Linked DNA regions of Homo sapiens: regions 1, 2 and 4 are each linked to region 3. Evidence: fine-mapped expression QTL. A gene starts in region 3. Each other region holds a variant in brackets. All regions are shown on one strand. Distances are from middle to middle.

Region 1 (2,500 bases), 180 kb before region 3:
CTACTTCCCAGTTATAAGCTGGCATGGCCAATACTGGAACATCTTTTGTAACAATGACTGATAGCACTCTCAGTCATTGTGGGTGTTGCCTGAAAGTGCCCAGATTTCTTATCTGTGGAGTCTCAAGTGTACCTGTCCTATGTAGATGTGAGGAAACAGACATCTTAAATAGTGGCAGGGCCTTGGGGAGGGAGGCAGACCTAGAACTGAGCGCCTGAACCTCTTGACTCTCGCAAAGCAGTGCTCACCAAGGAGACTGCTAGCTCGCCTTCTGCAAGCTGCTTACTCCTGTAATCATCTATTCAAGAGACGATTGTCTGAAAAGAACTCTAAGGATCTCTTTTTTTTTTTTTTTTTTGAGACGGAATCTTGTTCTGTTGCCCAGGCTGGAGTGCAGTGGCGTGATCTCGGCTCACTGCAAGCTCCGCCTCCCGGGTTCACGCCATTCTCCTGCCTTAGCCTCCCGAGTAGCTGGAACCACAGGCGCCCACCACCATGCCCGGCTAATTTTTTGTATTTTTAGTAGAGATGGGGTTTCACCGTGTTAGCCAGGATGGTCTCGATCTCCTGACCTCGTGATCTGCCCGCCTTGGCCTCCCAAAGCGCTGGGATTACAGGCATGAGCCACCGCGCCCGGCCAGGATCTCTTATCTCACAGACGGATAAGAGATCCATCTTTTTTTTTTTTTTGAGATGGAGTTTTTTTTTTTTTTTTTTTTTTTTGAGATGGAGTTTCACTCTGCCACTGAGGCTGGAGTGAAGTGGCGCAATCTCAGCTCACTGCAACGTCTGCCTCCCGGGTACAAGCAGTTCTCCTGCCTCAGCCTTCCGAGTAGCTGGGAATACAGGTGGCCGCCACCACGCCCAGCTAACTTTTTGTGTTTTTAATAGAGACAGGGTTTCACTGTGTTGACCAGGCTGGTCTCGAACTCCTGACCTCAGGTGATCCTCTGGTCTCAGCCTCCCAAAGCGCTGGGATTACAGGCGTGAGCCACTGCGCCCAGCTATCTCATAGATTTGTAAAACCTTCTTTGTATAACTTGATGAATGTGCATATAGAATGACTTACAAAACGTGAAAAAAATTGTCTTCCGTTATGTTTCTAAGCCCTTGTATAAGGAAGAAAGTAAGTATTAGATAATATTCTTTCGTCAAACACAGTAATTGGCATAAACGAAAGTAATTCCCTTTTTTGGTTAACAATTCTTCACGTTTCCCCCAAATTGCTTTTGTCATATTTAAAGACGTTCCTGGAAGTAGTGGGAAATAAAAAAGCCCTGGTTGAAATATCAAAGCCACTTCCTCATCATTCATATCCAGATGCAAAGACCGCTTCCTCTTTTAAGCCACATGGCTATTTTTAAAATAACAGCTCTGTACCATTTGTGAGTATCGTAATTAGTTTGAGATTGATTTCCAGGTTTGGAGTTGAAGCTTCAGAGTCCTGGAAACCGGGATTTAATCCTGGCTGTTTATTAGCTATGCGAACCTGAGTCGGTGACTGAAAGAGTAGCTGC[C/T]GTTAGCATCATCATAGTCATCCCTCATGTTTTGTAACAGTGATCATGATTCTGTTTGTCACTGATATGTCTCTTGATTTAGTCAGATTTTGAAATCGAGAAAAATACTTGACATATCAACAGAGCCTCCATTTCTCTGCTCTCATTATTTGAAACCACAAGTGAAAAAGGTTTTCTCCCCTTGACTTAAGCTGTGATGGTCTCTGTTAACTTGGAGAAAGGCCAGTGGTCTGTACAATGTGCCTTTATCTTTTGTCTGACTGCAGTCCCCTTTGAGACTAGATCTCTGGAAAGCTTGGCACCTTCAGCCACGGCTGCCTCTGCTGAACTGTTCCGTGAGTTTTGTGGTGTGGTGTGAGGTACACAGTGACTGTTTGGAGGACGTGGGTGTGTGCATTGTAAGCTGGCCTCTCCAGAGCCTCACTGAGTCTCCACACCTTCCCTAGGAAGCATGGAGGAGCTTGGCACTGGGGGTCCCAGGACCAGCTGTGCTTGTTCACTAGTTGAGAATTAGTTGGAGAATGTTCTGGAAAGCAGTTCCTTTAAGCTGGTCCCAGTTATATTGGGTTACTCTCTTCTTAGTCTTTGGAATTTTTCTGATGAAAACCTTTTAACCTTTATACTGAACAGGGCATTGTCTAAATATAGGAGCAGATCTGCAGATGGGGCCAAGAATTACTTCGAACATGAGGAGTTAACTGTGAGCCAGCTCCTGCTGTGCCTAAGGGAAGGGAATCAGAAGGTGGAGAGACTTGAAGTTGCACTCAAGGAGGCCAAAGAAAGGTATGAAATAGGTTAACTTGAAATATGTGTTTTTTTAAAACAGCTTTCCTGAGATATAATTAAGATACCATACAGTTCACCCATTTAAAGTATACATTTCAGTGTTTTTTAGAATATTCCAGGATTGTGCAACCACTGTTACTACAATATAATTTTAGAACATTTTTTCCCCCAAACAGCACTCACTGTCTGCTCCTCCA
Region 2 (2,746 bases), 80 kb before region 3:
CCAACAATGATAGACTGGATTAAGAAAATGTGGCACATATACACCATGGAATACTATGCAGCCATAAAAAATGATGAGTTCATGTCCTTTGTAGGGACATGGATGAAATTGGAAACCATCATTCTCAGTAAACTATCGCAAGAACAAAAAACCAAACACCGCATATTCTCACTCATAGGTGGGAATTGAACAATGAGATCACATGGACACAGGAAGGGGAATATCACACTCTGGGGACTGTGGTGGGGTCGGGGGAGGGGGGAGGGATAGCATTGGGAGATATACCTAATGCTAGATGACACATTAGTGGGTGCAGCGCACCAGCATGGCACATGTATACATATGTAACTAACCTGCACAATGTGCACATGTACCCTAAAACTTAAAGTATAATAATAATAATAAAAAAAGAAAAAAAAAAAAAAAAGAAAAGATAAAAAAAAAAAAAAAAATGTTAAACCATGGGTGTGTATTACCTGTTAGACTATTTTTTTTTTGAGATGGAGTCTCGTGTACCTGTTAGACTATTTTTAATTTTAAAAAGCCAAGATAATGTGGAAAGTGAATAAAACATTTTTAAACATTTATAATTTTAAACATTATAAGATCACAGAGTATATCAGAGTTCTCAATTGTAGACTAGAACATTTATATTTAACCAATTTGTTTTCAGAGAAATCCCTTCAAGGCTAGAGACAACTTTTTTTTAGAGACAGGGTCTTACTCTCTTGCCCAGTCTGGAGTGCAGTGGTGTCACATAGTTCACTATACCCTCAACCTCCTGGGCTCAAGCAATCCTCCCACCTCAGTCTCCCGAGTAGCTGGAACTACAGGCATGTGTCACCATGCCCAACTAATTTTTAATTTTTTTTGTAGAGATGGAATCTCACTATGTTGCCCAGGTCAGTCTCAAACTCCTGGGCTCAAGCGATGCTCCCACCTCGGCCTCTGAAAGTGCTGGGATTACAGGTGTGGCTCACCACGCCCAGCCTTTTAAATTATGAAAAACTTTTAAATTATGAAAAACTTCCCAAAGAATTAGAACATAATTGGCAGCAAATGAATTAGAAATAAAATAACCCAACTCAATGTAACTGATAAAAACCACATAAGTTAAAAAAATTTTTTTAATCATTCTGTGGCTCACAAAACTTACCACCTCCTTCTAAAAAATCTAAATAAACAAAGGCACACGATAATAAATTGTAAAATCTCTCCTGGAACACACAAAAACATTGTTTTTTCCTTGTACCTTTAACCTGCACTGGGAAAATGAAATTCCAACATATGCAAAATTGGTGAATAAAAATGAATGACAGATATATCCTTTGACAAATTTGTTTTCAACCACTTAGCTAGAACCCACTAAGAACTACGGGAAAGTAATGAAAGAACAGAAAAACCCAAGCAAAAGAAGCCCCAAAGGCCACACTTTTGACAAGGCCAGTCTCCAAAATACAAACCGCCCTGTTCTAATTTCATGTGAACTGTGGCTGTCCAGATCCCAGATCGCGTTACCTCTGTTATGCTTCTCCCGCCCAAGGAAATGACCGCAGCTGGCATTTGGTGAAGGAATTCTGGACCGAATTT[GAAAACCCTGAAGT/G]ATAATGGAGCCCTTGTTAAGGATGGGGGTAGAACAAGGTAATGGAATTCTTATTTGGCTCCTTTCTGCCAGAGTTCTGTATCTAGAGCCACCGTGCTAAGCATGAGCAGGGAAGAGGCAAGAACAGGCTGTTTTGCTTTTTTAAAGCAAGCCATTCTTGGTTTTTGACATCTGAAAAGCCCTGCATTCCTTCCTGTGGACACACGACCGGCAGGTGGTGCATGGTGTGGCTGTGAGTCAAGTTATTGGTTGACATCCTCCTGATCACCACCATGCAGCAAAGGGGAACTGCCCTCTTGCCAGAAAGCACTGGGGTGTGTTATCCTGACCAATATGAACCAGATTGGGGCTTCTCTTGTTTCCCCATGGAAGTGACAGAGCAACACTTTGCCTTTTTTTCTGTTGCACACTGAGTATTTTTTTTAGTCATTAATTAAAAAAACAAAAACAAAAACCTTGTAAACAGAGGCTACCTACCTCAGGGCCTGTCTTGGCATCCAACCAGAAGGTCAGTTATGTGCAAATACAGTGCAACCTCCCTGGTATCGCTGGCTGAACAGCCTGCACCCCTGACTCAGGATCTGAGCTAGCAGTGGTTAAGCTTTCACTGCTGCCCAACTACCAACCCCAGTTGGCAGGCTCACCATCCACTCGGTAACTGATCTAGATAGACACATGTTGTTCTCAAATTTCATTTTTTCTTTTTCTTTTTTTTTTTTTTTTTTTAGATAGGGTCTCACTCTGTCTGACAGACGGGAATGTAGTGGCCTGATCATAGCTCACTGCACCCTCAAACTCCTGGCCTCAAACAATCCTCCTGCCTCAGCTTCCCAAAGCACTGGGATTACAGGTATGAGCCACCACACCTGGCCTTAAAGTTTTTCTGTTATACCAGTCTCTTCCACTGCTAGAACATTGCTTACTAAAAGCTGTGTGTCACTTTCAAGGAGGTTTGTGGAGAGCTGCGGGTTCCTAAACAGCCTTTCTGTTTAGCCAGGCCCGAAGGCATTGGGGTAGGTGGTAGAAGTACATGGATCACATAGCTAGGGTATGCACTAGGAACCTGGTTAAGTCTGACTTGGTTAAATTTAATGGAGCTAGAAGTGAGATTTGCCGTCTGAAAAGACACCATGAATAGTGTAT
Region 3 (2,746 bases):
TGACCAATATGGTGAAACCCCATCTCTACTAAAAATACAAAAATTAGCCAGGCGTGGTGGCGTTCATTTGTAATCCCAGCTACTGGAGAGGCTAAGACAGGAGAATTGCTTGAACCTGGGAGGTGGAGATTGCAGTGAGCTGAGATCAGGCCACTGCATTCCAGCCTGGGCAACAGAGAGAGACTCCATCTCAGAAAAAAAACTACCACCACTACTACTACTACTACTACTACTACTACTACTACTACTACTACTGCTACTACTACTACTACTAATAATAATAATACAAATTACACTTGGGAGGCTGAGGCAGGGGAATGGCTTGAACCTGGGAGGCGGAGGTTGCAGTGGGCCGACATTGCAGAGTGCGGCACTGCACTCCAGCCTGACCACAGAGCAAGACTCCGTCTCAAAAATAATAATAATAATAATAATAATAATAATAATAATAATAATAACAACAATAACAACAACAACATAAATTCGCCTGGCATCGTGGCGCAACCCTGTAGTCCCAACTACTTAGGAGGCTGAGGTGGAAGGATCTCTTGAGCCCAGGAGTGAGCCGAGATCGTACCACTACTGCACTCCAGCCTGGGTGACAGAGTGAGGCCCTGTTTCAAAAAAAAAAAAAAACCAAAAAAGCAAAACCCTAGAAATTCCTTTTAAAGATCTCCTTTCTATCCGGTAACTGCAGAGAGTTGACATAGAATTGCATTGTTTCTTTAGCTTAATCGGTTACTTTCGGAATGTCACTCTCATCAATTAACATGTTATCCTTTCTTTCTCTCTGTTTCTCTCTTTTGGAACGCACTGGCCATCACGGCTCACTGTAACCCTGGACTCCTGGCCTTGGCCCCCAGAAGAGCCGAGACAACAGGCAAGGCGTGTGCCGCCGCGCCAGTCCTCACCCGCTGTCCTTCCCCAAATAGTGTCTTTATATAACTCAGTGGCAATGCCGTAGTCCAGCAGGGAGGCCGCCCTGGGCAGCGCCTGCCTGGCCAGCTCCTGCCCGGGAGGGCACCGTCCTCTCCCCTCCGGAGAGGTCCCGGTCACTGCCTGCCTGGGCCGGTTCCAGGCAGCCCTGCGCGCCTGTGCACCGTGCGCCTGTGATTGGACATCTCTGGGTCTCTGGACAGCTGCCGGGGTCACGCGCCGCCGGTGAAACGACGTCTCCACAAAGAGAGGAGCAGAGGCCCCCAGGGATCCCGGAGGGCAGGGCAACGCGGCAATTGCCCCGACCCCAGGGCGGCCGCGCGTGTCCTCGGGGGACGCAGCCTCTTCCCCGCTCCCCGGCTCCTGGAAGAGACGCGACCCAGGCGGGGACGCGGCGCTGAGCGAGGAGGCGCTGGGGCTGCGAAGCGTGCGACCCCGAGGCCTCCACCCGGACCAGGGCCACCACTCAGGCGGCGGCGCCGGCGCCGGATCCAGCCCGAGCCCCGCGCAGCCCAAAGGATACGACAGCCCCGGCCGAGGGGCGGCCGAGGTGGCCCAGAACAATCTGCAGACGGGCGGCGGCGCGAAGCTGCTCCATGGCTGCGGCGCGGGGAACCCCCACCCCTCCCGGCCTCTGCCCCATTTAGCCCAGCGGGCGGCTCCGCCTCCAGGCGCCGCCCCGGACTGGACGTAAGCGGGATTCCGGGCGGTGCCAGCTCGCGGGCCGGGCTGCTGGGGAGCCCTAGTCCGCTAGAGTCCGCGCGCCGGGCAACCGCCCGGGGCTGAAGTCCTCCCCACACCATGATCCTTCCGTCCTTTATTTTCTTTCTTTTTAAAAAGAAACAAGATCTTGCTCTGTCGCCCAGGCTGGAGTGCAGTGCGCGATCATAGCTCACTGCAGCCTTGAACTCTTGGGCTAATTTTTATTTTTTGTAGAGATGGGGTCTCGCTACGTTGCCCAGGTGGGTCTCAAACTCCCCCCGCCTCCCGTCTCGACCTCCCAAAGTGCTGGGACTACAGGCGTGAGTCATTACCCCTGCCCCGCACCCTGTTTCTGTTCCATCACCAGGACCCTCCCTGCCGCACCGAAGCTCGGGGGCCCAGTGACCAGGCCGAGGTCACACAGTGACAAGTGGCTGGGCTGGGACCTCACTCACTCTCCTAACGTCATGGCTTCCATCTGTTTAACCCTACGTGACTGCTCCTTCCACTGACAGCTGAAAGAATAAAATCTCCGATTTAAACAAAAAGTTTGCCGGGCGCGGTGGCTCACGCCTGTAATCCCAGCACTTTGGGAGGCCAAGGCAGGCGGATCACGGGGTCAGGAGTTCGAGACCAGCCTGGCCAACTTGGTGAAAACCCGTCTCTACTAAAGATACAAAAATTAGCTGAGTGTTGTGGCGCACGCCTGTAATCCCAGCTACTGGGGAGGCTGAGGCAAGAGAATCACTTGCAACCGGGAGGCGGAGGATGCAGTCAGCGAGATGGCGCCACTGCATTCCAGCCTGGGTGACAGGGCAAGACTCCGTCTCTAAACAAACAAACAAACAAACAAACAGGTTTTTAGCCGGGTGCGGTGGCTCACGCCCGTAACTCCAACACTTTGGGAGGCCGAGGCAGGAGGATCGCTTGAGCTCAGGATCGCTATAGATCGAAAGCAGCCTGGGTAACATAGTGAGAACACCTGATCTACAAAAAAATTAGCCGGGCGTCGTGGCGGGCGCCTGTAGTCCCAGCTACTCAGGAGGCTGAGGCAGGAGAACGGTGTAAACCCAGGAGGCGGACCTTGCAGTGAGCGAGATGGCGCCAC
Region 4 (2,746 bases), 21 kb before region 3:
AGACAGGGTCTTGCTCTGTCACCCAAGCTGGAGTGCAGTGGTGTGATCTCAGCTCACTGCAACCTCTGCCTCCCAGGTTCAAGTAATTCTTCTGCCTCAGCCTCCTGAGTAGCTGGGATTACAGGTGCATGCCACCACGCTCGGCTATTTTTTTTTTTTTTTTTTGTATTTTTGGAGAGATGGGGTTTTGCCATGTTGGCCAGGCTGGTCTTGAACTCCTGACCTCAGGTGATCCACCCACCTCGGCCTCCCAAAGTGCTAGGATTACAGGCGTGAGCCACTGCACCTGGCCCTTGTCTTCATTCTTCAGGAACAGAGGAAAGGACTGGAAAGAACAAGTCTTCTTGTTAAGGGAATGGTTGGGTTGAAGAAATCACAGGAGAAAGCCCTTGTCCGAGCAGGAATATCCACTTTATTTGGACTCCATGACACCGTTCCTATGCCCTTGACTAGATGTGAATGTATTATACATTGTTCTAGATTTGGGGGAAAAAAATCTCTTATGACATAAAATTGGTAGGGAATGGGTTTATCAGAAAGGGGATACAAAACATACCCTAAGCTCCAAATCATTCACTTCTTCTTGGGTAAAGAGCTAACTGAATGAAAGAAATTGATTTAACACTTAAATTAGACACCAACCACCTTTATTGGCTGCCACCCTAAATTAGTTTTCCTTAAAACAGTAATATTTCACTTTTACTGTTTTTTTTTTCCATTAAAGCAACACCATTGTGCTGCAAAACTAACTCTATGCAATTAAGTACCTGATACATGTTTTCTGCTTTTAACAAGTGATAGAAAAGGTTACATCATCTCATTAAGAAAACATTTTCCTTAGACATTTCGTTTGGTTTTGGTTTTCTGTTGAAAGAGTTATAGCAGATGGCTATTTCAAAGATTGGTTCTTTCTCCTTTCACAAGTCGAGCTCGAAACATCCAAATATCCTGGAAATAATATCAAACAGAGTGGGTTTATGGAACACTTCAATCTGCCCTCCATTAACCTTCAATTTCACCATAACACAAAATTGATTTCTAGCTTCTATGAAAGGTTACATAGGGAAAATAATCCCTGTAAGTTATATTCATTAGTAAACAAAACAACTCAACTTAAACTACTTACTCAACTCTTTTTTAAAAATTTT[T/C]TGGGGACACAGTCTCACCCCATTGCCCAGGCTGGAGTGCAGCGGCTCACTGCAACCTCTGCCTCCCGGGTTCAAGCGACTCTCCTGCCTCAGCCTCCCGAGTAGCTGGGATTACAGGTGTGCACCACCACGCCCAGCTAACTTTTTGTATTTTCAGTAGAGACAGGGTTTCGCTACACTGGCCAGACTGATCTCAAACTCCTGGCCTCAAGTGATCTGTCCGCCTTGGCCTTGCAAAGCCTCCCAAGTGCTGGGATTACAGGTATGAGCCACCACTCCTGGTCTACTTAACCGACTTCTAAAACAGTGTTAACTAAATTAAGTCAGTGGGTCCCCCAGCTGCTGTCAGTTCTGTTTTATTCAGGATATTTGTTGGTGCCAGCTAACATAACTGGGTCAATGTCATGTCGGGTTACAGAACAAACAGTTCACTGCCATTTTTCTGCATAATTTTTTTTTTTGAGACGGAATTTTGCTCTTGTTGCCCAGGCTGGAGTGCAATGGTACCATCTTGGCTCATTGCAACCTCTGCCTCCTGGGTTCAAATGATTCTCCTGCCTCAGCCTCCCAAGTAGCTAGGATTAGAGGCATGTGCCACCACACCCGGCTAATTTTATATTTTTAGTAGAGACGGGGTTTCACCATGTTGGTAAGGCTGGTCTCAAACTCCTGACCTCAGGTGATCCACCCGCCTCAAACACCCAAAGTGCTGGGATTACAGGAGTGAGCCACTGCACCTGGCCTGATGACTCTTATGTTACTTGTCTGAGCCTTTTTGAGTGTTCTACTCTTGATGAGATGATAATAGTGAACATGGTATCAAGGATTACTGCTTTGTTTGGTGGGTTTCTTCCCCCTCTGCCCTTAATAAAATAATTTAGATGTTCTTATTTCTTGGTTCTTGTTTATTTTTGAGCAAACAGCAAGGTATGGTGGAAAGAATAATTTTCAGATTTGACCTGACTCTAAAATCAAGCTTTGTCGCTTAGCTAGCTTAGATCAGCCTCTGGGATTTGTTTTCTTGTCATTGACAGCATGGAGTTTATACTGCCCCACCGGGTTTTGGTGAAGAAAATAAGAAAATGAATATGAATGTGCTTTTGTACTTTACAGAGAACTATGTAGCAGAGGTTAATATTGTTATTCTAAATATAACTTACAGAGTAATTAAACTAAATGTGGGAGGTATTCATTTAGCACAACCTTGACAAACCTCAAACATAATGTACATATATTTGTTCTCCCTTAAAATTTAGGATGTTAGCTCAAAGCTCCAGTTGACAAAATGTATAGGCATTTTAGGTACTGAACAAAAAGTGAGGAAGGACAAGAATTTCTAGGACCTGCAAATGCAAAATCAGAGCATTTTCAGAGATGCGACACATTTCCAGGTTCTAAAGGGAGAAGCAAGATTCCTTCTTTTGTTGTTGTTGAGACAGAGTCTCGCTCTGTCGCCCAGGCTGGAGTGCAGTGGCATGATCTCGGCTCACTGCAAGCTCCGCCTCCTGGGTTCACACCATTCTCCTGCCTCAGCCTCCCGAGTAGCTGGGACTACAGGCATGTGCCACCAGACCCAGCTAATTTTTGTATTTTTAGTA

What was found. PIP is the estimated chance that this variant, and not a neighbour inherited with it, causes the effect.
Region 1: its variant is the best candidate, but not a certain one, in a credible set for the expression of PHYH in blood mononuclear cells (TOPMed, PIP 0.72).
Region 2: its variant is the best candidate, but not a certain one, in a credible set for the expression of PHYH in skeletal muscle (GTEx, PIP 0.87).
Region 4: its variant is the best candidate, but not a certain one, in a credible set for the expression of PHYH in cerebellar hemisphere (GTEx, PIP 0.74).

The regions. Positions count from the first base shown.
Region 1 is chr10:13,116,741-13,119,240 of GRCh38, forward strand. It overlaps OPTN (optineurin), which reads left to right. Exons shown (of 15, transcript NM_001008212.2): 7 at 2,148-2,300. Among named protein-coding and RNA genes, the nearest start is that of OPTN, 18 kb to the left of the region's middle. RefSeq lists an enhancer at 1-18. The variant C/T (reference allele first, on the strand shown) is at 1,518.
Region 2 is chr10:13,218,294-13,221,039 of GRCh38, forward strand. No RefSeq gene overlaps it. Among named protein-coding and RNA genes, the nearest start is that of UCMA, 15 kb to the right of the region's middle. The variant GAAAACCCTGAAGT/G (reference allele first, on the strand shown) is at 1,591.
Region 3 is chr10:13,298,509-13,301,254 of GRCh38, forward strand. It overlaps PHYH (phytanoyl-CoA 2-hydroxylase), which reads right to left and starts at 1,556. Exons shown (of 9, transcript NM_006214.4): 1 at 1,460-1,556. The coding sequence starts at 1,534. It overlaps LOC124902377 (a long non-coding RNA gene), which reads left to right and starts at 1,681. Exons shown (of 2, transcript XR_007062056.1): 1 at 1,681-1,898. RefSeq lists enhancers at 546-1,166, 1,743-1,882 and a silencer at 1,143-1,562.
Region 4 is chr10:13,277,407-13,280,152 of GRCh38, forward strand. PHYH (phytanoyl-CoA 2-hydroxylase) reads right to left here. Exons shown (of 9, transcript NM_006214.4): 9 at 393-948. The coding sequence ends at 895. Among named protein-coding and RNA genes, the nearest start is that of PHYH, 21 kb to the right of the region's middle. The variant T/C (reference allele first, on the strand shown) is at 1,149.